Linked DNA regions of Homo sapiens: region 1 is linked to region 2. Evidence: fine-mapped expression QTL. Tissue or cell type: nucleus accumbens. Region 2 holds a variant in brackets; the other region holds the start of a gene. All regions are shown on one strand. Distances are from middle to middle.

Region 1 (6,651 bases), 130 kb before region 2:
TGTTTTAAGGTGTTATTACAAGAGTCCAAAGTTTTTAAAAATTTAAAAGTTTGTAAAGTAAAAATGTTACAGAAAGCTAAGGTTAGTTTGTTACTGAAGAAAAAAATATTTTTTATAAATTTAATGCAGCCTAAGTGTACAGTGTTTCTAAAGTCTATAGTATTCTACAGTAATGTCCTGGTCTTCACATTCACTCACCACTCACTCACTGACTCATCCAGAGTAACTCCCTGTCCTGCAAGCCCCATTCATGGTAATTGTCTTATCCGGGTGTCCCATTCTTCATCTTTTACACTACATTTTTACTGTATCTTTTCTATGTTTAGATATGTTTGGATAGACAAATACTTACCATTGTGTTATAACTGCCTACAGTATTCAGTACAGTAACATGCTGTATAGGTTTGTAGCCTAGGAGCAATAGGCCGTCCCATACAGCCTAGGGGTGTTGGATGCTATGCCATCCAGGTTTATCTATGAAGTTTGCAGGATGACAGAATCACTTAATGAGCATTTCTCAGAGTGTATCCCTGTTGTTAAGTGACAAGTGACTGTGTATACACACACACACACGCACACACCACACGCACACACACACACTACAGGAAGATACAGCCTTAAAATGACAATGGACTGCTGTGTAAAAGGAGTTTTAGAGAAATATAATGTGTTCTTGGAATTTTGAAACATGATAAATGAAACATGAGCCAAAGGTTAGAGCAGGATAATAAATTGGAAATGGCTGAACACCAAGTTGCAAATCTGGAAGCTAAAGCTGGGGAAATCTCTCAGGACTTACTTGAAAAAGACATAAATGGAAACTCACAGAAGAACTGGAGCCAGAAGCTACGGACAGTGGTTACCTCAGTGGAGTGAGAAGGCCTGTGATTTCACTGATGGCCCTTCTGAACCATGTGAATTTCTTCCTTCACCACATGCAGACATCAGTTAATAGGACAGATTAAAGTTGCATGCTAGCTGATGGCTGCCGGGGAGGCAGGAATACTCAATTAAGCGCGGCACAGTTCTCGTGGGTTCTTGTTGAATAGTGCAAGTTGGGAGTCCGGTCTTGTTCACCGTTTCCCTCTGTTCTCTAGGAGTGGGCAACCACTCTCATGGATGGCTCATACCTATTACGTGAGCTGCCCTGTGATAACTCACTGTCTCCCTTCTGTCTCAGAAGGCCTGCCTTTCCTTTGCCCTAGTTGTGAGGCATTTGGAATTCAGCCAATCTGCAATGCTGAATGTGGAGGAGGATCCATGTGACATGGTTGGAGCCAAGGTGTTGAGCAAAGCCTCATCTGTCTGGACAAACTTCAGTCCTCACAAGCAAGCAAGCTATGCCCAAGCTTATGTGCAATGCTTTGAATGGGCAGAGGTCAGTCTGACAGTGACAGTGTGAGAACGATGTGGAGCTGGGCCTGGGTGGGGAGAAGGTGCCCGTCCTCCATGAGTCTAAGTGGAGTGTACCCTTTTGACTCACAGATCCACGTATTCCTGTCACCAGTTGGTGCATGAAGGCAATACAGTCTCCTGAGTTTCTACAATACCAGGTCTGTCATTTAGTTGTCCTTGTTTTTAAGTGAGAGTGAAGTTCACTATTCTGAGGTCCAGGGAGGGGTGAGGAATTCCAGCATTAGGTTTGGCCTCAGGAAGAGGGACTGGGAGAATTTGATAATGGGGAGTGCGGTAGGCTGAGTTGTAACATGGTTCCCAAAGTCCCCACCCTCATGTACATACTCTGAATAGCATCTCCCCTTGAGTGTGGGATACTCCTGTGAAGACAACAGGGTTTCAGTGTGAACAGGCAAAAAGGGACTTTGCAAATGTAGTGAAGGTCCCTGATCAGTTCACTTTGAGTCAATAAAAAGGAGATTATCCTGAGTGGGCTTGACCTAATCGGGTGATCCCTTAAAGGAGACAAGAGGCAGCAATAGACATCCTCCTTCTGGCCTTGAGGAAGTCAGCTGCCATATTTTGCTCTTTTTTTTTTTTTTTTCCTTTTGTAGAGACAGTCTCCCTATGCCACCCAAGCAAGTCCGGAATTCCTGGCTCAAGCGATCCTCCTGCCTCTGCCTCTATGAGTACCGGGAGAACAGGTGTGAGCCGCTGCCCAGTCATATTTTGATTGACACTCTCCAAATGTGAGAGTGGCCTCTAGGAGCTTGGAGTGACCCCTGGCTGACAGCCAGCAAGAATATACAGACCTCAGTGTTACAGCCCAGCTGGATCCTGCCAAGCACCAGTGAGCTGGAAGAGGATCCCCAGCCTCAGATGAGCCTGCAGCCTGTGCTGATGCCTGGATTTCAGCCTGGGAGACTCTCAGCAGAGGACTCGGCTCAAGGCTGTCTACAGTCCTGATCTACCAGAACCATGAGATAATAAACAGGCATTGTTTAGGTAGTGAAATGTGGTTACACATAAATAGGAACCCAGTGCAGCGTAAGATGCCCTGGCATATCAAGGGCGGTTCATGAGTGGGTGCCTTCAGCTTGGGAGGAAGCAGGCATAGGGCTGATGCATCGCAGTGTCCACATATGCAGGGAGGCTGGTTTCCTAGGAAGCCTCCCAATGAGGAAATTGTTGGGAATGTGCTGCAAGGCGCTGCCTCGCTCTGGAGCCAGACGAGAGGCCGGAGCATCCGCCCCAACATGGCTGGCTGTGTGAGCCTCAGGAACGCTGGCAGCTCTGCAAGACTCTCTGCCATCTGCAAAATGTGGGTGAGCATATCCCCCCAGCCACACAATTCTTGGGGATGGAGTGAGACAATTCTTAGAAAGCTCTAGTTGCAGTGCGGGTGCACAGGAAGGGCTCTGTGCACACTGATGCATGTTGCTCTAGCTCAAAGTGTCCCTTGAGCAGCTGGGGTGTGATCTCCAAGTGCACCCACCAGCCGGTCTCACCTGGCCTGGGCTCCGAGCAGGGGTCAACCTGAGGGCATTTCACTCCAGATCCAGCATGGGTTTGAGGAAGGGGCCAATGAGGGGCCAGTGGCCACAAAATAGCACTTGATTCTGATCATAAGCCCAGTCACTAAGAGGCGGGTAAAAAGAAATGCATTACCCATTTGACAAATTTTCTATGGTGAATGAATACAAATACTGGGTTACAATGAGCACTTGGCTAGCTGGCTAAAGGTAGGGCCCCAAATAGGGGGGCTGAATGGAGGTGAGAAGCCTGTGACCATTGCTGAGGCATGGGCAGGGACTCGGGCACACACGTGTGGGCAGCTCCGTGGTGTTAACCTCCAGCCTGGGTCAGTTGCTGGCCTGGGCTGACTGTGGTGACCACAGGCCAGGGGATATTGGGAGGGACTGAAAACCATGAAACAAAGCAGAACAAACTTGCCACTCCAAAACCTCACACACGGCAGGAAGTGGGCCAGCCTGGAGTTACTGAGGGGGCTGTGGCCGGGCACACCCTGTCCTACCTGAACCCAGAGTGTCAAAGACAAACAAAGCCAGGCAGTAGTGAGAGGGTCAGGAGAGATTTTTCACAGTAATAACCGTTGCAGTGGGGAAGAGGTTACAGTGTGAACTGAAGTCAGCTTGGATGTGTACAGAGGTGAGTGGATTTTTCCAAGGGAGGAGGGAGGGGTGAGGGAAGGCTTGCTGGAGTCAGGAAGTGAGAAATTGCAAAGCCCAGGAAGGAGGGGCCGGCCCCACTGGGCTGCTAACTGGCTCTGGTCGAAGTTAGCTCCTGATGTCCCACAGAGGCCGGGAGACAGGGGCCGTAGCTGCAGGGATTGGCTGGAACAGGGTATTTTTTGGCGGTCTTGAGTTTCCTGAGGTAGGGACTATAAGGGGGGCTGGTGTCATCCTAGGGATGTGGCCATGAGTTGCTAGATGCCATGTTAGTGTTAGCTGAAGTCTTTATAGGCCAGCGTGGAGGTATTGTTGAGAAGAGGACTCAGAGGAGCCTGGCTGGCAGTTGGTCGAGGAGAGATCTTAGTCTAGGGCCCCACACAGCCCAGGTTCCAGGGATGTGGGTCCTGGCCAAGTATCCCATGGGCTCCTGCCTTTGGCTCACTCGAGTGGGCCTCAGGGACTCGCCACCAAAAAATCTGAGACGCCAGCCTCAAGGATGTGAGGGTGTCACATCTGTCCTCCACAAAGAGCCCAAGCAAGATGAGAAACAGCTTCATGACCCCCATAATGAACAAGCCTTTTAATGTCAGGACAGCTGCAAGCCCTTCTTCAAGCTCTCGGCCTCACCTGTCTTCCTTATAACCACAGAAAATGTCACTCCTCCTCTGATTTGCCTTCTATACCATGCCCTTCCATCTGAGGCAATCTTGTGAAGCATTCCACGTGGTCCTCCTGGGCCAGCTCACCCTCATGACCCCTGGGCTGCAGGCCACAGCTCTCCCTGGCGGACCAGGAGGCTGGCATGGCAGCATGGATAGAAAGTGTCTTTTACCTAAGTCATCATTCATTAACTCCAGTTACATTAGAGATGTTTCCTGCTGGAAAACTTTCAGAATCATCTCTTTTTGAGAAAAAGGTGTGTGTATTTTTTTAAACAACAGCAATAGTCCAAGTCTGACTACTAAGAGCACATTTTTATTTTTAAAATTAGACATTGTGCTGAAAACAAGTTTATTAAAATATGATCTATAACCTAATTTTATTCTTTCTTATAGACATGGGGGTCTCAGTATGTTGCCCAGGCTGGTCTTGAACTTCTGGCCTCAAGTGATCCTCCCACCTCAGCATCCCGGGTAGCTAGAACTAGAGGCACACACCACTGTACCCAGCTATGACTTGGTTTTAATTGTCAAGGGAACCAGATTTGTGAAAGAACAAAAACAGTGGCATTTGTTTGTCTGGAAATGGGGCCATCTGGGTTCTCCATCTCTTGGGGGCTGTGTTTGGAAAGGAAGAGCTGTCAGTCTGGGTTCCAGGCCGATCCTCCCCGCAGTGGCTTTCTTCCTCTCTCGCCTGGAGGACATCTCATAGTTCTTGCCCTCAGGGTCCCCCCAGGCCGCCTTATCCTCCTGGCTTTTCATCCCCTGCAATGTGCCACTCAGCTGCTGAGCTTCCAGGCCAGGCCTGCAGTTTCCTGGGTACCCAGCATGAGTGGGGCTCTCAGCTGAAGGGTGGGTCAGGTGGTACAGGAGCCTCCATAACAGTTTGCTAAATATATGAATAAATAAATTATAAAACGTTAGTCCCCCTGCCAAAAAAAAAGCACAAAACACAGTTTGAGGTGATGTGTTTTTGCCCTTGCCTGAGGGAGTTGGGATTTACACAATGCCACCATTTGCAAACTGGGATCTACAAGCCCCAGCAAGACACAAAGTTTGCAAGGGCACAGGCAGTGTTAAGCAAGCTGTGTTCCAGAACCTAACACCATCTTCATGGGCAGGCCCTGATGGAGATGCAGTTCTTCCCCGCCTTCCTCCACAGCACCCAGCTCCCTCCCCAAGCAGATCTTTCCACCCAGGGCAATGTTGCATCAGCCCAGAGGAGGAAGGCCTCCCTGGCCATGGCCACAGCCCACCCACCAGAGGATATTTGCAGTGTTGGGAAAGTGTGAGAAAGTGAGTGACTAATGGCTGTGTTACTAATCTTCTGGCAAGTCAGATTGTTCTAGTTCTTTGCTTTCCATGAACTGAAAGAGGATCTAGTCAATTTATAAACTGATGGATTAGATCATTAAAAGTAATTTTTAGGCCGGGTGCAGTGGCTCATGCCTGTAATCCCAGCACTTTGAGAGGTTGAGGTGGGAGGACTGGTTGAGCCCAGGATTTCAAGACCAACCTGGGCAACATAGTGAGACCCCGCGTCTACTAAAAATAAAAATTAACGGGCGTGGTGGCACACATCTGTGATCCTGGCTACTCAGGAGGCTGAGGTGGGAGGACCCCTTGAGTTTAGGAGTTTGAGGCTGCAGTGAGCCATGATTGTACCACTACACTCTAGCCTGGGTGACAAAGCAAGACTATCTCAAAAAAATTTTTTTATGATCAATCTTCATGTAATTTTCAGCACATAACTTAGAAGGAGTGGAATCTTTACAACAAAACACTTTCCATTCAGATGTATTTACTCATGTAAAAACGTTTTTCGCCATGCTTACATATATAAAAAATAGGAATCCAACTGATACCGAATCATGTGTCATGCCACCGATAAGTAATATTCATCCATGGATACATAAAGTAATTTGAAAACAGTTTTAGTACCATTTATCTCGTTATAAGATGTGTTTCTGATAAGTGTATATTTTCACTATTAATAATTATCAAGTTATAATGTAGTCATTTTACCTTCATGAATTGAGTGTTAATAACCATGATAACTGGAATACATCATTTACAATAACTGGAAAAAGTTATTTAACATTTAGAGACATGTTGAAGAAAATTAAAATTGTAAGTTTTTATACATAGCTTTTGTAGCAAGAAACCTGATAGTGTGATGAACAGAAGAGTTTTAAGCATAAGAAATTGTTATAATAAAATTCTGTGGAGGAAGAGGAATGAAAACAGGAGTTGCAGTAGAAAAAATGGATACTTAAGGAGGAGATTGTTCACACACATTTTTTTTTTTTTGAGACAGGGTCTCACTCTATGACCCAGGCTGGAGTGCAGTGATGTGATCTCAGCTCACTGCTTCCTTGACCTCCTGGGCTCAAGTGATCCTCCTA
Region 2 (6,651 bases):
CATCCTGCAGAACAGAACTGCAAGCATGGTCACGTGTATTGTATAACATGTCCTTATGGTAGTCATAACCTGCAGAGTGACAGAGACTTTTCAGGGTTTTCTTCTATTTTCTAGGAGAACTCCAAGTTCACCTAGTATGTTTATACAATTAATTGCAGGGCAGCTACAGGATCATCTCGAGCAATGATGGCACTTCTAAAGGACCCTCTTCTTTCCTCATGAAGCAGGATTTAGCTGGAACAGAGGGCTCAAGATACGCCATCACCAAATATTCCACTTTGGCATATTCATTACTTTGAACTAAAATAAGTTAAGAATCAGCCAAAGCAGAGAAAGTGCTTTACCTCCCCCAACTGCTAAAACAAAGCAAAAAGTTCCCCTTTTGTACAGGAAATTTATACCTACAAAAACATTTCATTAGTAAAGATGGCTGTACTAGGAACAGAGATAATTTTACAACAGAGATGTTATGGGGAAGAGTCCCAATTCAGACTCCAAGAGAGGGTTCTTGGATGTCATGCAAGAAAGAATTCAGGGCGAGTTTACAGAGTAAAGTGAAAGTAAGTTTATTAAGAAAGTAAAGGAATAAAAGAATGGCTACTCCATAGGCAGAGCAGCGCCGAGTACTGCTGGTTGCCCATTTTTGTGGTTATTTCTTGATGATATGCTGAGCAAGGGGTGGATTATTCATGCCTCCCCTTTTTAGACCATGTAGGGTAACTTCCTGACGTGGCCATGGCATTTGTAAACTGTCATGGCGCTGGTGGGAGTGTAGCAGTGAGGACGACCAGAGTTCATGCTCATGGCTGTCTTGGTTTTGGTGGGATTTATCCAGCTTCTTTACTGCAACTTGTATTTATTTATTTATTTATTTATTTATTTTGAGACAGAGTCTCACTCTGTTGCCCAGGGTGGAGTGCAGTGGCACGATCTCCGCTCACCGCAAGCTTGGCATCCTGGGTTCACGCCATTCTCCTGCCTCAGCCTCCCGAGCAGCTGGGACTGCAGGTGCCTGCCACCACGCCCAGATAATTTTTTGTATTTTTTTTAGTAGAGAAGGGGTTTCACCGGGTTAGCTAGGATGGTCTTGATCTCCTGACCTCATGATCCTCCCACCTCAGCCTCCCAAAGTGCTGGGATTACAGGCGTGAGCCACTGAGCCCGGCCCACTGCAACCTGTTTCATCAGCAAGATCTTTATGACCTGTATCTTGTGCTGACCTTCTATTTCATTCTGTGACTAAGAATGCCTAACCTCCTGGGAATGCAGCCCAGCAGGTCCAGCCTTATCTTACTTAGCACCTATTCAATATGGAGTTGCTCTGGTTGAAACACCTCTGACAGAGAGACTTTTATCTGGGTAACCAGGCAATGCTTATTCACCATACATTTCCTCCCCTCTTGTTACCCTCTTGTAACCACCCAATGGGCTCACCTTGCCTGCTGCCTAGATAGAACCGATTTATCGAGACAGGGGAACGACAATGGAGAAAGAGTGATTCACACAGAGCCGGCTGTGTAGGAGACCAGAATTTCATAGTTACTCAAATCAGTCTCCCCAAGCATTCGGGGATCAGAGTTTTTAAAGATAATTTGGCACATAGGGGCTTGGGAGGTGGGGATTGATTAGGTTGGAGATGGAATCACAGGGGGTTGAAGTTAGGTTTTTTTAATGTCTTCTATTCCTGGGTGCCATGGCAGAACTGGTTGGGCCGGATTACCAGTTTAGCTAGTGTCAGCTGATCCATTGAGTGCAGGGTCTGCGAGATATCTCAAGTGCTGATCTTAGGTTTTACAATAGTGATGTTATCCCCAGGAGCAATCTGGGGAGGTTCAGACTCTTGGAACCAGAGGCTGCATGACCCCTAAATTGTAATTTCTAATCTTGTAGCTAATTTGTTAGTCCTGCAAAGGCAGACTGGTCCCAGGCAAGAAGGGGTTCTTTTCAGGAAAGGGTTGTTATCAATTTTGTTTTAGGGTCAAACCATGAGCTGAATTCCTTCCCAAAGTTAGTTCTGCCTATGCCCAGGAACGAACAAGGACAGCTTAAGGGTTAGAAGCAAGATGGAGTTGGTTAGGTCTGATTTCTTTCACTGTCATAATTTCCTCAGTTATAATTTTGCAAAGATGGTTTTACTCTCATAACATGTCTCCACTCTCCCCCAAAGCCCAAGCCCCTGCTCCTTTCTGTAGCTCAGGATAGGGAGAGCGTATAAGTCTCAGTCATCTAGCTGCTTTGTTGAGTCTCCTATGTTTGTCACACTCCCTGTGAGTACGTACATAATTAAAAGTGTTTTTCTCCGGTTAATGTGTCTTATGTCAACTTATTTTGTAGACCAACGAAAGTACCTAGAAGGATAGAAGAAAGCACTTTTCCCTCCACTGTGGTGGCTATGAAAAACAATTCCCTCTAAAATTATATCAAGATGATCACATTTCTGGAACTAAAGCTTTTTCCAAAACATTTTTTTTGGGGGGTGAGGTAACCCAGGCTGGAATAAGTGGCTTTTCATCAGGAGAGTTCATAGTGCGCTGCAGGCTGGAACCCCTGGGCTCAAACTGTCCTCCCACCTCAGCCTCCCAACTGGCTGGTGCTGTAGGCATGAGCCACCATGCCTGGCAAAAATCTGTTTCTTTTTTTTCTTTCTTTCTTTCTTTTTTTTTTTTTTGAGACAGAGTTTCCCTCTTGTTGCCCAGGCTGGAGTGCAATAGCGCAATCTCGGCTCACTGCAACCTCCGTCTCCAGGGTTCAAGTGATTCTCCTGCCTCAGCCTCCTGAGTAGCAGGGATTACAGGCACCCGCCACCACACCTGGCTAATTTTTTTTTTTGTATTTTTAGTAGAGATGGGGTTTCACCATGTTGGCCAGGCTGGTCTCAAGCTCCTGACCTCAGGTGATCCACCCGTCTCCACCTCCCAAAGTGCTGGGATTACAGGCGTGAGCCTCCACGGCTGGCACAGATATGTTTCTTAATAAACATTTTCACTGCGAGAACTTCAGTGTATCAAGGTAGAGGTAGATTTTTAATATGCTGCATAGACAAATTCTGCAAAGGAAAAATGGAAAGGGTGCCCAGGAGACAGGCAGCCACGTACCTGTGATGCGTGTCATGCACCTCTGCATGGCATCCAATCGCGCCCCCTTCTCTGGCAGGACAGGAAGGAGCCTTTGCTTCGGGGCTGCGCATCTAAAATTGCCAGAGTAGGACAGCACATATTTGCAGGCTAACACAAGCATTTCTGAAAGGAAATGCATTTGGAAACTGAGTGGTATTGAAGCATCTATTTTTCTTGCTAGCAGCACAATCTGCCACCAGGAAGGTTTTAAACACTTTCCTGACAGAGAGTGCCTGCCTGAATTTTTTGGTAATTAATCATGCATAATACTTTAAATTCCACACAGGC[G/A]GCTGGCTGAAAACCCTCCAGGGATTGCTGCATTTGCTATCCGAAAGTCAACTCCTATGCCTTCGGAGAGTGAGGAAGATCAGAGAGGGGCATTTTTGCCTGTTTTAATGTCGCCATCAGTCACCAGGCAAGTCTGCAATCTTTGCTGCATCCTTCCATGGTATCGGCACAAGCAAGGCTGTAGGTATCTAATACATATTTAAGAGTATGGGATGTAATAAAATCGGGTAATTCCTTGCCTTGGCTGGCACCACAGTATTCTCAAATAGGAAGACTGGGTGCTAGGATCTGTCTGCTGTGCTTGTGTGGGCTCACTTGAAGAGTCAGATCACATCCCTCTCTTGTTTGGCCAGCTCTGTTAGAACCATGGTGGTGGGTAATTAAATGATACACCAGCGCCTCTCACCTGACAGCTTAAGAGAACGTTCACATATATTTACATATATATTTCAGATACACATATATTTCACAGTTGTAAACCAAAAGGTATGTGAGACAGGTCTCAATCGATTTAGAAAGTTTATGTTGTCAAGGTTAAGGATGCACCTGTGATGCAGCCTCAGAAGGTCCCAACATGTGCCCGAGGTGGTCCAGGCACAGCTTGGTTTTATACATTTTAGGGAGACAAGAGATAAACACTGGTTCCTTCGGTCTGCAAAGGTAGGACAACTCCAAGTGGGGAGGGGGCTTCCAGGTCTTAGGTAGAAAAGAGAAAAACAGTTGCATCCTTTTGCGTTTCTGATTAGCTCTTCATTGAATGTGCCATTTACAGGAATAGTCGCTTACGCCTTAATCTGGCTTAGTGAAACAATAGGGCAAAGGAAGCAATCAGATTTGCATTTGTCTCACATGAGCAGAGGGATGACTTTGAGTTCTGTCTGTTGTTGACGAAAAGAGTCAAACTCTGTGAAATATCTGAAGAGATTTATTCTGAGCCAAAAATGAGTGACCACGGCCCATGACACAGCCCTCAGGAGGTCCTGGGAACATGTGTCCAAGGTGGTCGGAGTGCAGCTTGATTTTATATATTTTAGGGAGGCATGAGACATTAATCAAATACATTTGAGAAATACATTGATTTGGTTCAGAAAGGCAGGACAGTTTGAAGCAGGGGCTTCCAGGCTATAGGTGAATTTAAGCATTTTCTGGTTGGCAATCGGTTGAGTTTGTCTGAAGACCTGGGATGGATATAAAGGGAATGTTCGGGGCCGGGCATGGTGGCTTACGCCTGTAATCCCAGCACTTTGGGAGGCGGGTGGATCACCTGAGGTCAGGAGTTCCAGATCAGCCTGGCCAACATGGAGAAACCCCTGTCTCTACCAAAAATACAAAAATTAGCCTGACGTGGTGGTGGCTGCCTGTAATCCCAGCTACTCAGGAGGCTGAGGCAGGAGAATTCCTCGAACCTGGGAGCCAGAGGTTGCAGTGAGCAGAGATCACCCCATTGCACTCCAGCCTGGCAACAGAGTGAGACACTCTTGGGAAAAAAAAGAAAGAAAGAAAGAAAGAAAGAAAGAAAGAAAGAAAGAAAGAAAGAAAGAAAGAAAGAAAGAAAGAGAAAAGAAAGAAAGAAAGAAAGAAAGAAAGAAAGAAAGAAAGAAAGAAAGAAAGAAAGAAAGAAAGAAAGAAAGAAATGGAATATTCAGGTTAAGATAAAAGATTGTAAAGACCAAGATTCTTTTGAAGTCTTATAGTGGCTGCCCATAGAGACAATAAATGACAAATATTTCCTATTCAGACCTCCAAAAGGTACTAGACTCTCAGTTAATCTCTTCAGGACTGGGTGGGGGGGCCTGGAAGAAAAAGATCTAGCTATGTTGATAGAGATTTTTTACAGATGCAAATTTTCCCCCACAAAGGATGGCTTTGCAGGGCCATTTCAAAATATGGCAAAGAAACATATTTTGGGGTAAAATATTTTTATCTTCTTCTTTGTCACAAAATGTTATGCCAGAGTCACATTGGAAAGTAAGTCACGATATATAGGGTTAAATAAAACCCATCTGATGAGAATTTGTGGTTTGTAGGGCATGACTCCCCAGACTCCTTAGATAGGAATTTGGGCAAAATAAGAAAAAAATCACAACTTAGCCCTGTCTTTCATCCACTGGGAATTTTCTTGCGGGAAAATTGTGAGGGAGATATGTAGCTTTTTTGTCTTTGTAGCTGTCTTATTTAGGAATATAATGGGAGGCAGGTTGGCCGGAGCAGCTCCCAGCTTGACTTTTCCCTTAGTGATTTTGGCTTAGTGATTCTGGAGTCCCAAGGTTTATTTTCCTTTCACACATTATTACCTTCATGACAGGGCAGTGTAGTGGGCCATTTCAAAATATGGCAAAGAAACATATTTTGGGGTAAAATATTTTTATCTTCTTCTTTGTCACAAAATGTTATGCCAGAGTCACATTGGAAAGTAAGTCACGATATATAGGGTTAAATAAAACCCATCTGATGAGAATTTGTGGTTTGTAGGGCATGACTCCCCAGACTCCTTAGATAGGAATTTGGGCAAAATAAGAAAAAATCACAACTTAGCCCTGTCTTTCATCCACTGGGAATTTTCTTGCGGGAAAATTGTGAGGGAGATATGTAGCTTTTTTGTCTTTGTAGCTGTCTTATTTAGGAATATAATGGGAGGCAGGTTGGCCGGAGCAGCTCCCAGCTTGACTTTTCCCTTAGTGATTTTGGCTTAGTGATTCTGGAGTCCCAAGGTTTATTTTCCTTTCACACATTATTACCTTCATGACAGGGCAGTGTAGTGAAGGAAAAAAGGGCTTCCCTTCACCCTTCTAGGTTCTTTGACTGGGCTATGAATTAGATTAACAAAAAAAGTATGAACAGTCTGGGCACAGGGGCTCATGTGTGTAATCCTAGCACTTTGGGAGGCCGAGGCAGGCAGACCACTTGAGGTCAGGAGTTCGAGACCAGCCTGGCCAATGTGGTGAAACCCTGACTCTACTAAAAAATACAAAAAAAATTAGTCAGGCATGGTGGTGGGCACCTGCAATCCCAGCTACTCGAGAGGCTGAGGCAGAGAATTGCTTGAACCTGGGAGATGGGGGTTGCAGTGAGCCGAGATTTTGCCACTGCCCTCCAGCCTGGGCAACAGAGCCAGACTCTGTCTCAAGAAAAAAAAAAATGAACAGGATAAAAACTATTCTAATTACGTACGTATGCACAGCAGTCCCACAAAAATGTGAGACAAAAATGTGAGAAGGGCCAGATGACTGAAACTTAATTGACATCC

Direction of the effects. Alleles are on the strand shown, and positions count from the first base shown. SD is a standard deviation of normalised expression in the study named.
For the expression in nucleus accumbens of the gene that starts at base 2,514 in region 1, G is the high allele of the variant in region 2 and A is the other (moderate effect, 0.52 SD a copy in GTEx).

What was found. PIP is the estimated chance that this variant, and not a neighbour inherited with it, causes the effect.
Region 1: it holds the start of LINC02346, and the variant in region 2 is fine-mapped to the expression of LINC02346 in nucleus accumbens (GTEx, PIP 0.99).

What each region holds. Positions count from the first base shown.
Region 1 is chr15:25,899,847-25,906,497 of GRCh38, forward strand. LINC02346 (long intergenic non-protein coding RNA 2346) reads left to right here and starts at 2,514. Exons shown (of 5, transcript NR_040082.1): 1 at 2,514-2,720.
Region 2 is chr15:26,025,139-26,031,789 of GRCh38, forward strand. The region is part of intron 2 of LINC02346 (long intergenic non-protein coding RNA 2346); the gene reads left to right. Among named protein-coding and RNA genes, the nearest start is that of TRE-TTC2-2, 54 kb to the right of the region's middle. The variant G/A (reference allele first, on the strand shown) is at 3,405.